Linked DNA regions of Homo sapiens. The protein of the gene in region 1 interacts with the protein of each later gene in a biochemical or structural test. Each region holds a gene or a part of one and is shown in the gene's direction. Other genes may lie near its edges.

Region 1 (2,887 bases):
AAGTGAGACAATTATCATTATGCTTAGGGTGAACTGTTTTTCTTCAATAATTTGAAAAAGTGACTTCACATTATCTGATGCTCGTGATTCTTTTTACTTGGTTGACCTCCAGTGATTAGAAAGCTCTGGAAAGAATGTAGTAATCACCAAAGTCAGATCTCTAGTTTCTGCCAGGACTGAGACAATGTATATGCCACTTAGTGAAACTTAATACTTGTGTGGTCACATGATGCTGTGCAAAGTATAAACAGGAGTGAGTCTTCAGTAAATGACACACTATCTTCTTCAGCTGCTCTTATAAAGTTAAGATGTTAAGCAGTATAGCAGCTGTCAGATGATTTTTTAGCAGATTAGAAAGAATACTAATTTTAAAGTTTTTGTATGCTGTTACCTACTGTACTCCATTTACAACTAAGTGGCAAAAGCAAAATGTAGAGAGAAAAAAATGTTATTAGTGTTTAAAAAATATTGTTTTTGGTGCCAACTAGGCCAAGCAGTGAGTCAGGTGCTGGCTGTTCAGTGATGGACTAAAAAGAAAATAGATATACATGTCTTGATGTAATTTTTAGCTTAGGGGAGGAAACTAAACTTAATAAGTAATTACATGGATAAATGTTTAATTAAAAGCTGTAATAAGGGTTTTGAAGGGAAAACGAGTGGGTTTTGAAAATATATTGAGGTTCTTAATTTAGAATGAGGGAGATATAGATTAGAGAATGCCTCTAAGAAACATTTAAGCTGTAACATAACACTGTCCAAAGAACTCTAGTTTATCAAAAGATGATATAAATGCTGAAGAGGAAAAATGTATTAATATGCCCTATTTCTGACATAAAAAACATAGAAACTTCTGTATATCTCTGAGAAAGCCATTGGCAAGATTTTTTTTTTCTCTTACGATCTTATTTGTGGCATTTAGCTATAATGGTCACACTCTGAATATTATAAGGATTTTCTTAGAGAACTGGTTAGTCATTTCAATTCATGGTCATCAGAGTCCCAGTTCTTTAGTAGATATTTTTATTTCCCCAAGCAAGTGCCTCTCTCCAATTCCTGTTCTTGCCTCTCTCCAATTCCTGTTCTTGTTAAAAACTTGTACCCTCCCTTCCATTTTACAACTGAACCTGAATCTATTTGAATCCAAGTTTGTGGAAGCCAACAACTATCATCTTTAGATCCATCATGACCATAGCAACCACCAACTGATTATTTGGATAATTCAGACAAACATGCATCTTGGGTCCTGATGGTCCTTATCACTGCTTTGATTCCCTTCTCTTTGGAGAACTAGTTGTACTGTTATAATAAACATGTAACTGTTGTTATTAAATGCTATCTTTTTGTACTAGACATTAATTGCATCCATTTTGTTATTTTCCAGGAAGAGAAAACAACAAAGACTATTTTTCTCCTGAGCTTCTCGTGCTCTATTTTGCATCCTCCTTAATAATACCTGCCATTGGAATGATAATTTACTTTGCAAGAAAAGCCAACATGAAGGGGTCATATAGTCTTGTAGAAGCACAGAAGTCAAAAGTGTAGCTAATGCTTGATATGTTCAACTGGAGACACTATTTATCTGTGCAAATCCTTGATACTGCTCATCATTCCTTGAGAAAAACAATGAGCTGAGAGGCAGACTTCCCTGAATGTATTGAACTTGGAAAGAAATGCCCATCTATGTCCCTTGCTGTGAGCAAGAAGTCAAAGTAAAACTTGCTGCCTGAAGAACAGTAACTGCCATCAAGATGAGAGAACTGGAGGAGTTCCTTGATCTGTATATACAATAACATAATTTGTACATATGTAAAATAAAATTATGCCATAGCAAGATTGCTTAAAATAGCAACACTCTATATTTAGATTGTTAAAATAACTAGTGTTGCTTGGACTATTATAATTTAATGCATGTTAGGAAAATTTCACATTAATATTTGCTGACAGCTGACCTTTGTCATCTTTCTTCTATTTTATTCCCTTTCACAAAATTTTATTCCTATATAGTTTATTGACAATAATTTCAGGTTTTGTAAAGATGCCGGGTTTTATATTTTTATAGACAAATAATAAGCAAAGGGAGCACTGGGTTGACTTTCAGGTACTAAATACCTCAACCTATGGTATAATGGTTGACTGGGTTTCTCTGTATAGTACTGGCATGGTACGGAGATGTTTCACGAAGTTTGTTCATCAGACTCCTGTGCAACTTTCCCAATGTGGCCTAAAAATGCAACTTCTTTTTATTTTCTTTTGTAAATGTTTAGGTTTTTTTGTATAGTAAAGTGATAATTTCTGGAATTAGAATGGTTGTATGTTTATTTATTATAAACTGCCTCCTTTAGTCACATTGTAGCTCTTTCTGAAGTGCTAAGTTATAAGAGTAAAATATTCAAACTATGGAAATAATACGGATACTCAAAATGTGACCCTTAGACTACTATTATTAAAATTACTGTAGGAACTTGATAAAAATGTAGATTTCTTGGTGCCAGACTAAGATATTGAATAGAAGTGTCTAGTTTTTGGTCCTTGGAATCTGCAATTTTTTAATTTAGAAAAATATACATAAAAAGATTTAATGCAGATGAACATGCACATGTTAATGGGCAACAAATGAACACCTGTGTACAGAACATTAAGAGCAAGAGATAGTAAAACTATTCTTCAGAGCCTTTTATATACCACATAGTGATGGCAGCACTCTTCCCTCACTGAGCAGTAACCCATAAATATTGTGAATCATACATTGATCATTTCCATGCTTCCTTTGGAGTTTTTTTTTTTTTTTTTTTTTTTGAGACGGAGTCTCGCTCTGTCGCCCAGGCTGGAGTGCAGTGGCGCCACCTCGCATCTCGGCTGGCTGCAAGCTCCGCCTCCTGGGTTCACG
Region 2 (7,206 bases), on another chromosome or scaffold:
CCTATCCTCCAGATTTAGTCACCGTCTTGCATTTTCCCCCAAGGTTATTAAGGGTGGAAAATAACCCCAATCCTTGTTTTGCCAAGAGTACTCTTTATGTATTTCCCCACTGCCTACTGACTGTTCTTTTGAAGTGACTACAGCTAGATAGAGCTTTGGTCACTTTTTTGTTACTGGTTGAGATTAACCCGGCACCAGTGTGGAGACAGGCTCCAAGGTGATTTGATAGAAATCTCCTGTATCAGTGGATGTGACTGTTCTGGGTACAATGGTTCTAGTCCGTGACACTGTTCTGAGCTTCCGGGAGGGCTGCCCTTCCTCACTTTAGTTTTAACCTTGTCTGAAGAACTCCCAGGAAATTACCAACAGCCCTTCACCAGGCTCAAGAGGCAGACTTAGGATTACCCTTCTCTAGCTGAAAAACTGGAAAATGGAAACCCGGCAATGAAGGGTCATTCAAGGTCTTATACCTAAACTAACAGCAGGGAAGTTTCCAGTAGTCCTGGCTCCAGTGTTTCCTCACTTCCTTCCAAGGCACTGAGTATCATATATTAACAAAAGGATGACTTTCAAACACAAGGAACAGCTTCACAAATGAGGGCTAAAAGGAGAGGCAAGTGAAATATGCGTCAAGGTCCTGCCACATCCTAAGTCAGTTGTTCTCAAATTGTGGTGTACATCATCAAAACCACGTGGGGACTTGTTAAAGAAACAGATTCCCAGGGGCTGCCTGAGACTTAGTCTTAGTGAGCCATAAGTCCTGGAGAAGGGCACTATGAGTGATTCTAATGCATATTCAAGTTTCAACACAGCTGGAGTTGAGTCTTCTGTGTGTGTGCTGGGGGCAGGGGTTTAGGTTCCAAACCCTGATGAAAATAAATTACCCTTAGAAAATCTTAAAACATTCATAAGATACACTGTAAGTGTTTCCTTGGTGGGCAGAACAGTACAGTAACATGTAAATGCTATGTTGTCATACTTACAGTAATGTAAGATACATGATAAGGAATGCATGTACAAATATGACTTTATACTATTTTAACTTATGTAAGAAAGATTATATAGCATCCCTCTGTATCCACAGGGGATTGGTTCCAAGACCTCTGAGGATACCAAAATTCTCCAATGATCAAGTTCCTGACATAAAAGGGTACAGTATTTGCATATAATGTACAAAATCCTCCTGTATATCTTAAATCATCTCCAGATTACTTATAATATGTAATATAATGTAAATACTTGTTATACTATATTCTGTATTGGATTTTTATTGGTATTTTAATTGTAGTATTATTTTTATTATTTTCCAAATCTTTTCCATCCAAGGTTGGCTGATTCCATGAATGTAGAACCTACAAATACAGAGGGCTAATTGTACATAAAAGTTGAGTGAGTCAAATGCTCATATGATATGATTCAGTGACACAAGAATACCATGAAATACATATTATCCTTTCCATTTTACAGATGAAGAGATGGATGCTCAGTCAGGTTGACAGACTTGCCCGAACGGACCAGGTTGGTCAGTTTGCAGGAAGCAGAATTCAGACTTAGCTCTGTTTGCCTCAAAAACCTGCCATCGTTTCATTTTTATTTTATTTTATTTATTTTTTGAGACAGAGTTTCGCTGTTGTTGCCCAGGCTAGAATGCAATGGTGCGATCTCAGCTCACTGCAACCTCTGCCTCACGGTTGGTTTCAAGTGATTCTCCTGCTTCAGGCTCCCGAGTAGCTGGGGTTACAGGCGTGCACCACCATGCCCATCTAATTTTTTGTATTTTTAGTAGAGATGGGGTTTCCCCACGTTGGCCAGGCTGGTCTCGAACTCCTGACCTCAGGTGATCTGCTCGCCTCAGCCTCCCAAAGTGCTGGGATTACAGGCTTGAATCATCGCACCTGGCCGTTTCATTTTTACCACACTGCCACAGGCCACTTCATTTTTTGGCATTCCCCTAAAGGGTAAAGTTCAGAAATGCTCTTCAAGGTCTTGGGGCACCGCTATTTCAAACATTCAATTTAGAAGACAGTATACTTCAAATGGAGCGAGATAAAAATTAGATTAGAGGCATATCCTATTATGAGAGTTGGGAACCCAAACTGGCTAACCAGGCTCCAGGCAGTGATAAGGCAGTGGAGGTATTGATGTCCAGTTGGAAACATTATCAGTGCAGGTAATTTAAATATCTTTCATAGTTTTCTTTCTACTGCAGTTACCATTATATCTTCATTTTATTTATTTATTTATTTATTTTTGAGACGGAGTTTCACTCTTGTTGCCCAGGCTGGAGTGCAATGGTGCGATCTTAGCTCACTGCAAGCTCTGCCTCCCGGGTTCACACCATTCTCCTGCCTCAGCTTCCCGAGTAGCTGGGACTACAGGCGTGCGCCACCACACCCAGCTAATTCTGTATTTTTAGTAGAGACGGGGTTTCTCCATGTTGGTCAGGCTGGTCTTGAACTCCTGACCTCAGGTGTTCCACCTGCCTCGGCCTCCCAAAGTGCTGGGATTACAGGCATGAGCCACAGCGCCCGGCCTATAACTTCATTTTAATAAAAAAGAAATTCAGGCCAGGAGTGATGGCTCACGCCTGTAATCCTAGCACTTTGGGAGGCCGAGGTGAGCAGATCACCTGAGGTCAGGAGTTCAAAACCAGCCTGGCCAACATGGTGAAACCCCGTCTCTACTAAAAATACAAAAATTTAGCTGGGCTTGGTGGCGGGTGTCTGTAATCCCAGCTACTCAAGAGGCTGAGGCAGGAGAATTGCTTGAACCTGGGAGATGGAGGTTGCAATGAGCTGAGATTGCGCCAATGCACTCCAGCCTGGGCAAGAAGAGCAAAACTCCGTCTAAAAAAAAAAGGGAAAGAAAAGTTCAGTCTTTCAGAGGGAATACACTTACCTGAATAGAGGTCAAAATCTCAGAAGAGGCCTCCCTCCTCTCTCTGACCTCTGAAATGCCCTGGATCTGCAAGTGGGAGATAACAGGCCCTGACAAAGGGTTGCCCAAACAGCAGTGTGTCCCTAGGAAGACAGGTTAAGCATCAATTACTATGAGGCTAGCACGAGTTAAGCATTCCACATGCACGATCTCATTTAATCCTTACAAGTCTATGTAGGTGGGGCTACTAGTATGTTCACTCAACAAATTGGGAAACAGAGTTTGGAACTTCGCCCAAAGTCATTGGTTTCTCTTTCTACCAGGATAGATTTAAGTGCTTACTAAGTGTCAGGTACTGTTCCAGGCATCGTACATGTACTAACTCATTATCCTCATTAGAACCCTCTGATACAGGTGCCATAATTATGCCGCTTTACAAACAAGAAAACTAAAAGCAGAAAGGGAGGAGTAAACCCAGGAGAGGAATTCAGGAGAAGCTCTGGTCTCAACCTTTAGCCAACATCACAATCACCCGAAGGGCTTGTAACACACTGATTGCTGGGCTCAGCCCTAGAGTTTCTGAATCCTAAGGCTGAGCAACACCTAATTTCCACTTATGCAAGTTCCCAGTGAATGCTGTTGCTGCTCGTCTGGAAGCCAGACGTTGAGAACCCCTTCTAGAGTGAGCTCTCCCGCAGCAAATTCTACTGGCCCCCAAAGTATGTGTTTTGTGTGTCTTAAAAATTTGTTGAGAACCATTAGCAAAAAAACAAACAAAAAAACTTAATTCCTAGAATTTCAGAGAAATCCCATGGAGCTTTTTGCCAGTCACGTCAAAAGAGGCCACAAACGTGCCACTTAACCAGAGCTTCGGAAAGGCGGCGGCTGGGCCGGCCACGTGCACCGAGACTCGGGGCCAGGTGCAGCCGCCCCAGGGCCGAGGCCTCGGAACTGGCCCCCGGTCCCGGCCCCAAGCGGTCCAGCGATTCCCCCAAGCCGTCCGCCCCTCCAGATTTATTTACGTTTTCCTGACTTCCCCCTGCCCGCTGTGGGACAAACAGCCTCCCCACTTGCATCTGCGAGGGGAGTAGCGCGCACTTCCGCCAAGTTCCGCCCCCACCCAGCCCGAGGCCCGGCTGCCGCCATCTTGCGGGGGGCGCACCTCACAGGTCGGGAGCTGGGCGGGAAGGGGCGTGGTCCCGGGACCCGCCCCGCCGGGGCTTTTGGGAGCGCGGGCAGCGAGCGCACTCGGCGGACGCAAGGGCGGCGGGGAGCACACGGAGCACTGCAGGCGCCGGGTGAGGCGTGCGGCGGCCGGGGTCGGGACGGGGGTTCTGGGCGGGGGGTTCCTGGTGGAGGGCCCGGGCGGGCGGCGGGGTTCGGCGGCAGGTGCGGCGGGCAGCCTAGGGGGCGCGGCGCGGGGTTCTCGCCCGGCACCCCCGGGGCAGGTGGAGCTGAGCCGGCCCGCGGCCCCGCGACCTTCCCCTCGGCGCCGGGTCCCCTCAGGTCTCTCCCGAAGGAAACGCGGAGCCTGGGTGCCTGGGCGCCGTCCCTCGGCGGCTCCCGAGCGGTTGCAGTTTTTGAAAGAGTTTCTCAAAGGCTTGACGGTTGTGACTGCAGCCGCGGGGCAACGGTTGCTACACAAAGTGAAACTTGCCGAGTGCTCGGCTTCTCACGGGCTTCCTGGCAGCCCCGGGAAGTTCCTCGGCGGACCCCGAGCCCGCGCCCCCTCTCCACGGATCCCTCCCCAGCGAGTGCCCCCCCGCCCGCCCTGTGCCCCCTCTCCCCTGACCCCTCCCTGTCGGGTGCCCCGCGGGCTCGCGCTGGCTGTCCCGGGACTCCTTCCTCCTAGGTGTTCCTCCTGCCCCTCGCCCTCTCTCTCCCAGGCGCGCGCTCCCTCTCCCCGGGCCTTTCCCCGCCGGGTATCCCTGGGCCCGCGCCCCCTCTTCTCCGCCTCTCTCCGCTGGGTGCACCTCGAGTGTCCCCCAGACCCCTCCCCGCCCGGCCGGCGCTCTCTCCCCTGACCCTCCTGGCCGAGTGTTCCCCGGGGCCCGCGCCCCCTCCCCCCGATCCTCCCCACTGAGTGTTCCCCCTGCCCTCTCTCTCCCGGGCCTGCGCCCCCCACCAGCCCCTTCATGCTGGGGGTCCCCTGGGTGCGCACCCCCTCTCCTCGGACCCACCCCCAACTGGGGGGCACCTCCAGTGCCCGCCGGCTGCCCCTTGGGCGCGCGCCCCCGCTCTCGGGCGCCTCCTCGCCGGGGGCCCGGCCCGGCCCCGCCCCGCCCGTGCCCCCTCCCCATGCCCGCAGTGCTGGGCGGGGCGCTGACTCACCCGGGCCCGGGCTGGCCGGTTCTTAAGCGGCAGCGCGCTGCGGGCGCCGAGTGTCGGGCGCGGCAGGAGGACGAGGCAGGGCGGGCGGGCGCTCTAAGGGTTCTGCTCTGACTCCAGGTTGGGACAGCGTCTTCGCTGCTGCTGGATAGTCGTGTTTTCGGGGATCGAGGATACTCACCAGAAACCGAAAATGCCGAAACCAGTAAGTTGCCCAGTTTCTGGGCCGGGCGGACGGGAGAGGCTTCATTGGAGAGGGGAGGCACCTGCTCGAGGTGTTGGGGCAGTTCCTGGGGAACAGGGTTCTTCTCACACGCAGAAGACGATAGGAATAGGAGGAGGTTTTCGCCGCTCTTTGTTACTTGTTGACCCTTTTGTGGAGCGTTAGGAAAACACCATTTTGATGCTTTTCTCTGCAGTCTTTTTCTTTGTGAGCCCCCTCCCCAGTAGTTACGGTCTTTTCTAAAAACTAGAGGCCTTTTTACACTGCTTCCGTCTGTTTTTAAAGGGTATAGTAATACAACTTAGAAGTTTCTTAAAAAGTCCAAATCACAGGGAGACTCAGATGGCTTCCGACCACACACACCAGTTCTCAGAGCTCCTAAGGGTCCGAAACCACAGGCGCCCCAGATCCAACTGGGGAGATATTAAAGGGCGTTTGGGAGAGGAGACTGGCTTTCGGAAGTTGCCTTTCAGCTTCGCTTCCTACTAGGCCCATGAAGCGGTGCCCTGTACACCAGCAAACTTGCTGGCTGCAGCAGAATTTCTGTCTCTAACAGAAGGTTAGCCATGGACTTGAATTGTAGATGCAGGCAGCCGGTGGAGTTTGATAAGAGGTTCCTGGCAGGCCGGGCCGAGCACTCCTGGTCAGCTGATGAAAGGGCTGTGCCTGCGCCTCTGTCTCCTTGAATCTGATTGTGTTGAGATTGCTGGCGAGACCTGGGGGTTGTAGGCACAAGGCAGGTTCTCTGGGACTGACGCTTCTTAGAAAGTTGTATGTATTCTACCTGCTTTTAACACTGGGGAACTGGTGACTAGACATTAGGGGGAAGGTTTAACATTTTTTGAGTTTTGAATCACAATGGACAAAATATCAGGATTCATTACAAATTGGGATTACAGATACATCTGGAATTTTTTTTTGGTTTTTCAAACAAGTTGGTTCTGTAATCAATGCTTGTGTGCCTTTTGTGGGGGATGGGGGAGCGGAGTCTCTCTCTGTGGCCCAGGCTGGAGTGCAGTGGCATGATCTCGGCTCACTGCAACCTCTGCCTCTCAGGTTCAAGCGAATCTCCTGCCTCAGCCTCCCGAGTAGTTGGGATTACAGGCATGTGCCACCATGCCCAGCTGGTTTTTGTATTTTTATAGAGAGGGGGTTTCACCATGTTGGCCAGGCTGGTCTAAAACTCCTGACCTCAGGTGATCTGCCTACCTCGACCTCCCAAAATGCTAGGATTACAGGCGTGAGCCACCACACCCGGCCTTGTGTGCTTCTTCTGTTACATTTTATGTTCTCTAAGATCTTTGTTAGAGGTATTAATTTTGCTGTTAGGATAAAGAATTAATATGCCAGTAGATTCAGAAGCCAATATAATTTTTGCCTAAGTTACATCAAGATGATTCATTTGTGATGCAGAGTATTTTCTATACAAAATTTTTCTTTTTAATTCAAACTTAAAAGTGACACGTGACATCGAGGCTTGACAGTGCATGTGGTATGAAACTGACCTAAGTACAACCCCTTACTCAGGCAGAGCTGAGTGCAACGGTATGCGGAGGAGTGGTCAAGAAGATTACCCTTCTGGGTGTGGTTTTCTTTATTTCACTAAAAGAAGAGGTGCAGAGCTCAGCTAAGATAGCACTCAGGAAAAAGTTAACCTGTTCTCCGTCACTACTTTTCTTTCTCATTTCTCATAATGAATGGTAATTTATTTTTATGGTTTCTTTTTTGTATTTTGGTAAAATATACAGTTTATCCTCTTACTTTTAGGTTTACATTTC
Region 3 (7,083 bases), on another chromosome or scaffold:
CGGAGGTTGCAGTGAGCCGAGATCACGCCACTGCACTCCAGCCTGGGTGACAGAGTGAGACTCCATCTCAAAAACAAAAAAAGCAAAAAAACAAAAAAACATGCCTCACTACCCACCGCCACCCTTGCCTTCTTGCCATTCCTTGGACTCTGCTTCTGGTTGCCAGTTTCCTGAGTCTGCTTTAGTAGCCAGAATGGAAAAGCTTATTAATTGCCATCTACATTTTTTGGTGATGATGACAGTTATATATATATATATATATATATATATATATATATATATATATATATATATATATATATTTAAAAAGGCCTTTCCCCCTCCCTACCTTCTTTAATTTTTTTCTTTTAGGATCACAAAGGCTTTGAGGCTTTCTTGGATTTCCTAAAAAAAGAGTGTTTTGAATTTTCGAGATGTTCTTGAGTTTCTGGTTTCCTTCCTTGGGATTTATTAGATGTTAGTATTGAAAAGGCTCTCCACAACTATAAAGTCCAATTCCTCTCATTGTATAGATGATGAAACTGAAACTCATGTTAGGGGGAGACTAACCTAGAGTGATGCAGTATGCCAGTTGCAAAACTAGGACTTGAATCTAGGTCTTAGTTAGAGGGTCAGTCTTGGTGAAACACCTCTTTGATCTGCTGGGGTTTTAGCCATAGATCAACAGATCAGGGGAAAGGCAATCGAGTGGTCATTTGATGGGACCATCAATGTGAGCAGACATAGAGCCTAGATCCTTGAAGTATTTGAAGGTGTTTGGGTCGGCATTCAGCTAAACTTTAACAGGGACTATGTGGACTGTTTATTCTCCTGCCATTCCTAGCATTACTTGAGCCACTCGAGTGGCACTAAAGTGGTACTTGGTAAATAGGAGCCAGATTCTTAGTCTTTTAACCCTTGAACCAGCCCTGCCTACAGACTTAAGTGGGGGGAAAAGGATCAGGAAGAGAGGTCATATGAGAGAGGATCCTGCATCTCTCCACTTGGGTTCTTCAGTTCACTTGGCCCTTTGTGAAAGTGTAGATGATAGAGACAGAGCAGGAACCATCTTGGGAATTTCCTTTACGCTTTTCTTTTAACAGCCCTCTGGGTAGGGAGGGGGCTGGTGGGGCAGGAAGGCCTTTGTGGGACCCACACCAACTAATCTATGCTCTCTCGTGTTAGGCTTGGAGAGGGAAAGGTTGCTCTGTGAGTCAGTGATAGAAGTAGTATTGATCACTAATCTTCTAACTTTCCATTCTCTAGCTGCCTGCAACAGTAGCTTGTTTTAGGGTGTTGTTCTTACTTTTCTCTTACCTCCTCCTCCCATGAAACTACTTTACCGAATGATGGAGCTGGAAAGGACATTTGGAAGTCATCTAGTCTATTTCCCCTGCCTCCAAATCTAATTCTCTCTGGATGAGATAATATGACAGCTACAATTATTCTGAACTCTGTTCTAGTGTTGCATGGCAACAGCCTGTCTTAGGTCCCTTTGTATCTTTCTGGGAGTTTCCCCCACTGGAATTTCTAGACTCAGGGTCCCCAGAGGGGAGAATATCTGGCTACCAACACTACCAGAGTTAGGCCTTTCATAACCATAGCTGCTGGAAATTTGGCATTGTTACAGATTGCTAATAGTCTGTCTCTAATCTTTCAAAGATAGAATTGAATTTATCATGTGCCTCTTTCCTAACTCAGAATCTTCTTTCCCTGCCACCTGCTCTATTACTTTGCTTGCAAAAAGGAAAAAACAGGGTACAGATGTGGTCTCCTTTGGGATAGTCTGTTGGTTCAAGTGAAGGGGGTGGTCTTTTCATGACTGACTGGCTTTGCTGTCCATCCCTCCTTCCATTTCATGCTTGAGAGAGCTGAAAAACTTTTCAATTCCAGGTTCTAATCTGTGGTATAGAAGTTGTCACTTTGGAGGATTAGCTCAGGATTCCATGAATTTGGAAGGTGGGTGCTGGGAAATGGAAAGCATCACTGAACTGAGAATTTTTCTTCTCTTTCCATATAAGAAGAACTTCTCTCCTGTCCTCAGTAAAGTGAGCCAAATGAAGTGGGACTTTAGGCAAGTCCTTTCTTCAGGCCCTCTGTCTCTCCAGCTTGTCATGAGGGAGCTGTACCAGTGATGGGTAAACTCTAGGAATCCCTCCAGTACTGATGTTTTTGAGAATCTTGATGGTATAAGAGCATTGAGTCTCTTATATGTATGTTCATTCCTTCAGACATTCTTTCTTCAACATTTGGGTACCTTCTATGTGCCAGGCAGTATTGGAAATACAAAATTGAACAGCGCTTATTAAAATGTATCCTCTTGTCCCATTATACTCCTTGAGTGCTGTTTCTTCTTAAGTGCTGAGTTCAGAATGGACTGTTTCTCACATGGGAGTTGGTTTGTTTCATTAGTAGATCCAAGAAGAATACTGGCTTGAGTACTCTTGGCCATTTCTTCCCGAGTCATGGGAGAGAAAGGGCTGTGTCTTTCCTTACTGTGGAAAGAAATAAACCAAGTGAGAGTATATTATGAAGACTGTGGGTTGACTGAAAAGCTTTGGACAAACACTAAAAGCCTCATAGATTTTCCTGCCATTCTTCCCACATTTTTCAGTGACCGCCTGCCTGATAGTAGAATAGTCCTTTTTATTTCTGCTGAAAGGAAGGCCCGGAAGCTACTAGATTATGTTTCAGATTTTCTTCTAACATGGTGAGTGTGGTAGTTAGATATATTGGTAGATATTGAGGCCTTCCTAAGGGCTCCTAAACAAACCTCATAAAGTATCTACCACCAGTGAGCTGAGGACTGGCTATTGTGGGGTACAGCTTTTTTTTTTTTTTTGATACGGAGTTTTGCTGTTGTTCAGGCTGGAGTGCAATGGCACGATCTCAGCTCACTGCAACCTCCACCTCCCGGGTTCAAGCGATTCTCCTGCCTCAGGCTCCCGAGTAGCTGGGATTACAGGCATGCGCCACCATGCCCAGCTAATTTTGTATGGGGTACAGCATTTTAAAGGCATTTGCATCTAGGGCAACCCAGAGCTTCCCTAGCCTTAAGCTTTCCTTTAGCTGGTTGTTCTGGATGGGCAGGGTTTCTCACAGGAGTGTTTTGAACCATGGAACAACTGAGCTGGCCTTAAATCTTCTGCCTCAGCCTTTATCTTCTTGATGGGGGCACTAAAGTCCAGAAAAGGGAAAGGATTTGAGTGAACTGGTGATAGTGCCAGGACTAAAACCTAACTTGCTTGGCTCCAGTGTAGGGGAGGGATGGTGAATGCCTACCTTCTAAATGGCACTCACTGTGAGGTGCTCAGTGTCTTCTCCCTCTGTGCTGGTGGTGACATGACCGTGGAGTTATGGCCATGGGAAGAGCAAGTTCCTCTGAGTGTGTAGAGCTGATCTCATGGGTTTCTTTATTTGGAAATGGCTCAGGCTCTGACCTTGTCTCAGGAACTCTTTGTAGCACTTCCCAGGAAGGTAAGTGTTTTGCTTTGGCTTGTGACGGGTGGTGGAAGGCATATGTGTAGGCTGAAGGGAGGTAGAGAGAGGACACTAGTCACATTTTCCTGCTTGAGACTAGGCCTTGCTGTCCTAAGAAACTTTAGAGAGTAATTTCTTCATCGTATTCATAGCCAGAGGGGTTAGGCAGCTTGTTCGAGGTCACATATAGTTGGTAACAGTATTGAAAGGAGAACTTGGATTTCCTAATTCCCAAGTTAGTGGTCTCCCACTGGACTTGGCTGTCTTAGAAGGATGACTCCACCCAGAGAGCACAGACTTCCAGAGAACTGGCTCTGTGGTGATTACATTAACAAGATGGGTACAATGGAGTTCCCCTAAAATGGTTTTGCTATAGCAAGTTTTTCTGGGATCTCCGATGACTGTCTTCTCTTCCTGTCTACCCCTCACCCCAGTTCCCTGCTTTCTCTTTGCCCTGTTTAATTTTGAGCTCTGACCTTTTTGAATTCTGAATTCTGACTCAGCGCTCCAGCTTGATCTGTCCCTTGAGTTAGGAGAACAGTATGGCACTTTTTCAATTTAGTGACAGTATTTGCTGCTGTAGCAAATTGTTTGAATGCAGACTAGAATCTCCTGGCCTCAAAGTTCACCACTCACCTCTAGGTGCTTATAGGCCAAGCCTGGGGCAGGAAGCTAAAAAAAGACCTTTCAAGCCTCCGTGGAAAGGAAGCATAGAGTAGTGTTGAAAAACAGACTCTGGAACTAGACTGCCTGGACTCAAATCTAGCTCTGCGACCAACTAGTTATATAGCCTTGGACAAGTTATTTAACTTCTGCACCTCATTTTCCTTAACCATAAATAATAATAGTACTTACAGAGTTGCTGTGAGGATTACATGAGGTAATTTATGTAAAGGGCTTAGAACTGTGCCTAGAATCTAACAAGTGATATACAAATGTTATGATTATTTACTGAATTTTACTATATGCCTAACTTTGTGCTAGATGGGATGGATAAGAAAGAAGACAGGTAGTTGAATTCTTACCATTTAATGAGTGGTTACTATGTACTATTTACCATAAGGGATAGAAATAAATGAAGGGATGATACAACTGCTGCCTTCAAAGATCTCCTATCTCCTATTTAATTGGGGATTTAGGGCTAATTCACTTAAAAACGGCTTGAGAAAAATATATACTTTGCATTGCATTTTCTACAACTTTTTGAGGAGAAAGGGTTTACTGGGACATGAACAGGGCCTTAAAGGGTGTGTACACTTGGGAGCAGTGGCCGTTCTGGGTGGGAAAGTGATGTGTTTTTGGTATGTGGGTGTAAACCAATGGCCCTAGACCAATGCTCTCTTGAAAGTTACTTTATCTGAAGTGAAGGGAGGCTTGAGCTGCTGACTGATTCAAGGGGAGCCACAGATATAAGCATAGATGAAGCTACTCTTTCTAGGGTAATTTGGATCCAACAATCCTTTCTTAATTGGCAAACAAGGGCCTGTGGGGGAGACCATACCTTTGGTTTTCCAGAATTGGGCAAATTAATTTTTTTTTTTTTGAGATGGAGTCTAGCTCTGTTGCCCAGGCTGGAGTGCAATGGTGCAATCTTGGCTCACTGCAACCTCCGCCTCCTGGGTTCAAGCGATTCTCGTTCCTCAGCCTCCCAAATAGCTGGGATTACAGGCATGCGCCACCACGCCCAGCCAATTTTTGTATTTTTAGTAGAGATGGGGTTTCACCATGTTGGCCAGGCTGGTCTTGAACTTCTGACCTCAGGTGATCCACCCGCCTCAGCCTCCCAAAGTGGTGGGATTACAGGTGTGAGCCACCACGCCCAGCCTGGGCAAATTAATTTTTAAAAATGTTGCTTTTGTTGCCTAAGTAGGTATGTGAGAGGGTCTTTTCTTCATGCTTACACATGAACTAAACCAAAGAATAGAGCTTGGCAATAACTTTATGTCAGCAGCCTAGAAACAGCTTTTAATTCTCTCATTGACTTTGCTATAAAATCAGGTATTTGGGAAAGGGTGGAGATGGCAGGGAGGATTTCTCAGTGTGTGGTTGTTAGAGGTGGAGGAGTATGACGTTTTCTGGCCAGGGCACAGCTGCAGCATCTGGGTCTTGAATTTGGAGAAAAGGCCTTTTGGGCGACTTTCAAAGCACAGCCCTTTGTCTGTGCCTAATGACACAGATACCAGATCTGATGCTCCTTTCAATCGGCTTGTTGTGGCATAAGGTAAGTGTTGACATAGCTCTTAGGCCACTAATATGGCAAATGGCTCTGTGCTTGCTTAGTAGAACTGTTTTGCCAGTTATCTTCTGTGATTGGTGACTTCGAATATTGAAGTTTCTTCCCATTCCTGGCAACCCTTCTACCTTGTGGGAATTTGATAGATACTTTGTGCATCCAGGGTAGTGATCAGGGCCTAATGAGAGAAGAGTTGAGATATGACAATTTGGTTGTACAAAACAAGATATAATCCTGAAAATTTTTTTCCTGGGTATATATTTGGGAAGTGACTGGGGCCAAGGCCTAGGAGGGGGAACAAGGCATACCTGTCAGGCTTGATCAGTATTTCTTTCCCTCTCTTTAGCCTTGGCCTCCATTAAATACCTGAGAAGGATCAAGTCTTATTTTTCTCAAGTTGTGTGTTTAGATAAGGTTCCTGATCTTACTTTCGTGATCTAATCTGCCTTCCCTCCAACCCATGATCCATTTCCTTTTTTTTCTTTTCTTTTTTTTTTGAGACGGAGTCTTGCTCTGTTGCCCAGGCTGGAGTGCAGTGGCATGACTTTGGCTCACTGCAACCTCCATCTCCTGGGTTCAAGAGATTCTCCTGCCTCAGCCACCCAAGTAGCTGGGACTACAGGTGTGCGCCGCCACGCCCGGCTAATTTTTATATTTTTTTTAGTAGAGATGAGGTTTCACCATGTTGGCCAGGCTGGTCTTGAACTCCTGACCTCGGGTGATCTGCCTGCTTCAGCCTCCCAAAGTGCTGGGATTACAAGCGTGAGGCACTGCGCCTGGCTGATCCATTTATTTTTTCAGATTCTCAGCCTGGATGTTTGATGAAGCTCACCAAGAGCCTCTTTTATCTGTTGTAATTTTTAACTGAGGTTGACTAATCTATGGTATAGAGTTGGAGGGTGAGGGTCAAGGTAACAGTCAATCTGGGCATCATTAGTTAAGTCGTACAAATCTTTGCTATTTTCAAGGGTTTTAAGTGAGCTAAACTCCTCTCCAAACATCCTTGTAGATACTTGTGGGAGACTGACTAATTCCTTTACAAAGAAGAAAAGTCACATAACTTCTTTGCCTTTTAATTTTCTTTTTCTCCAACATGAAAATATCAGCAATATTAGAAAGAGGCACATGGAGTTTGCGTGTGGTGGCTCATGCCTGTAATCCCAGCACTTTGAGAGGCTGAGGCAGGTGGATCATTTGAGGTCAGGAATTTGAGACCAGCCTGGCCAATATGGTGAAACCTTGTCTCTACTAAAAATAGAAAAAATAGCCGGGCGTGTTGGCGGGAGCCTGTAATCCCAGCTACTTGGGAGGCTGAGGCAGGAGAATCACTTGAACCTGGGAGGTGGAGGTTACAGTGAGCTGAGATCACGCCATTGCACTCCAGCCTGGGT

The links. The genes of interacting proteins can lie anywhere in the genome.
Region 2: the proteins of VCAM1 (region 1) and EZR form a complex in vitro, tested with the Homo sapiens proteins (one study listed by BioGRID).
Region 3: the proteins of VCAM1 (region 1) and MSN form a complex in vitro, tested with the Homo sapiens proteins (one study listed by BioGRID).

The regions. Positions count from the first base shown.
Region 1 is NC_000001.11:100,736,742-100,739,628, forward strand, and holds the end of VCAM1 (vascular cell adhesion protein 1 isoform a precursor), read left to right. Parts: intron 1-1,381; coding exon 1,382-1,542; 3' UTR 1,543-2,304; downstream 2,305-2,887. UniProt on the Homo sapiens protein: Cell adhesion glycoprotein predominantly expressed on the surface of endothelial cells that plays an important role in immune surveillance and inflammation.
Region 2 is NC_000006.12:158,816,286-158,823,491, reverse strand, and holds the start of EZR (ezrin), read left to right. Parts: upstream 1-4,123; 5' UTR 4,124-4,175; intron 4,176-5,256; exon of another isoform or gene 5,257-5,325; 5' UTR 5,326-5,398; coding exon 5,399-5,410; exon of another isoform or gene 5,411-5,513; intron 5,514-7,206. UniProt on the Homo sapiens protein: Probably involved in connections of major cytoskeletal structures to the plasma membrane. In epithelial cells, required for the formation of microvilli and membrane ruffles on the apical pole. Along with PLEKHG6, required for normal macropinocytosis.
Region 3 is NC_000023.11:65,670,654-65,677,736, forward strand, and holds part of MSN (moesin), read left to right. Parts: intron 1-7,083. UniProt on the Homo sapiens protein: Ezrin-radixin-moesin (ERM) family protein that connects the actin cytoskeleton to the plasma membrane and thereby regulates the structure and function of specific domains of the cell cortex.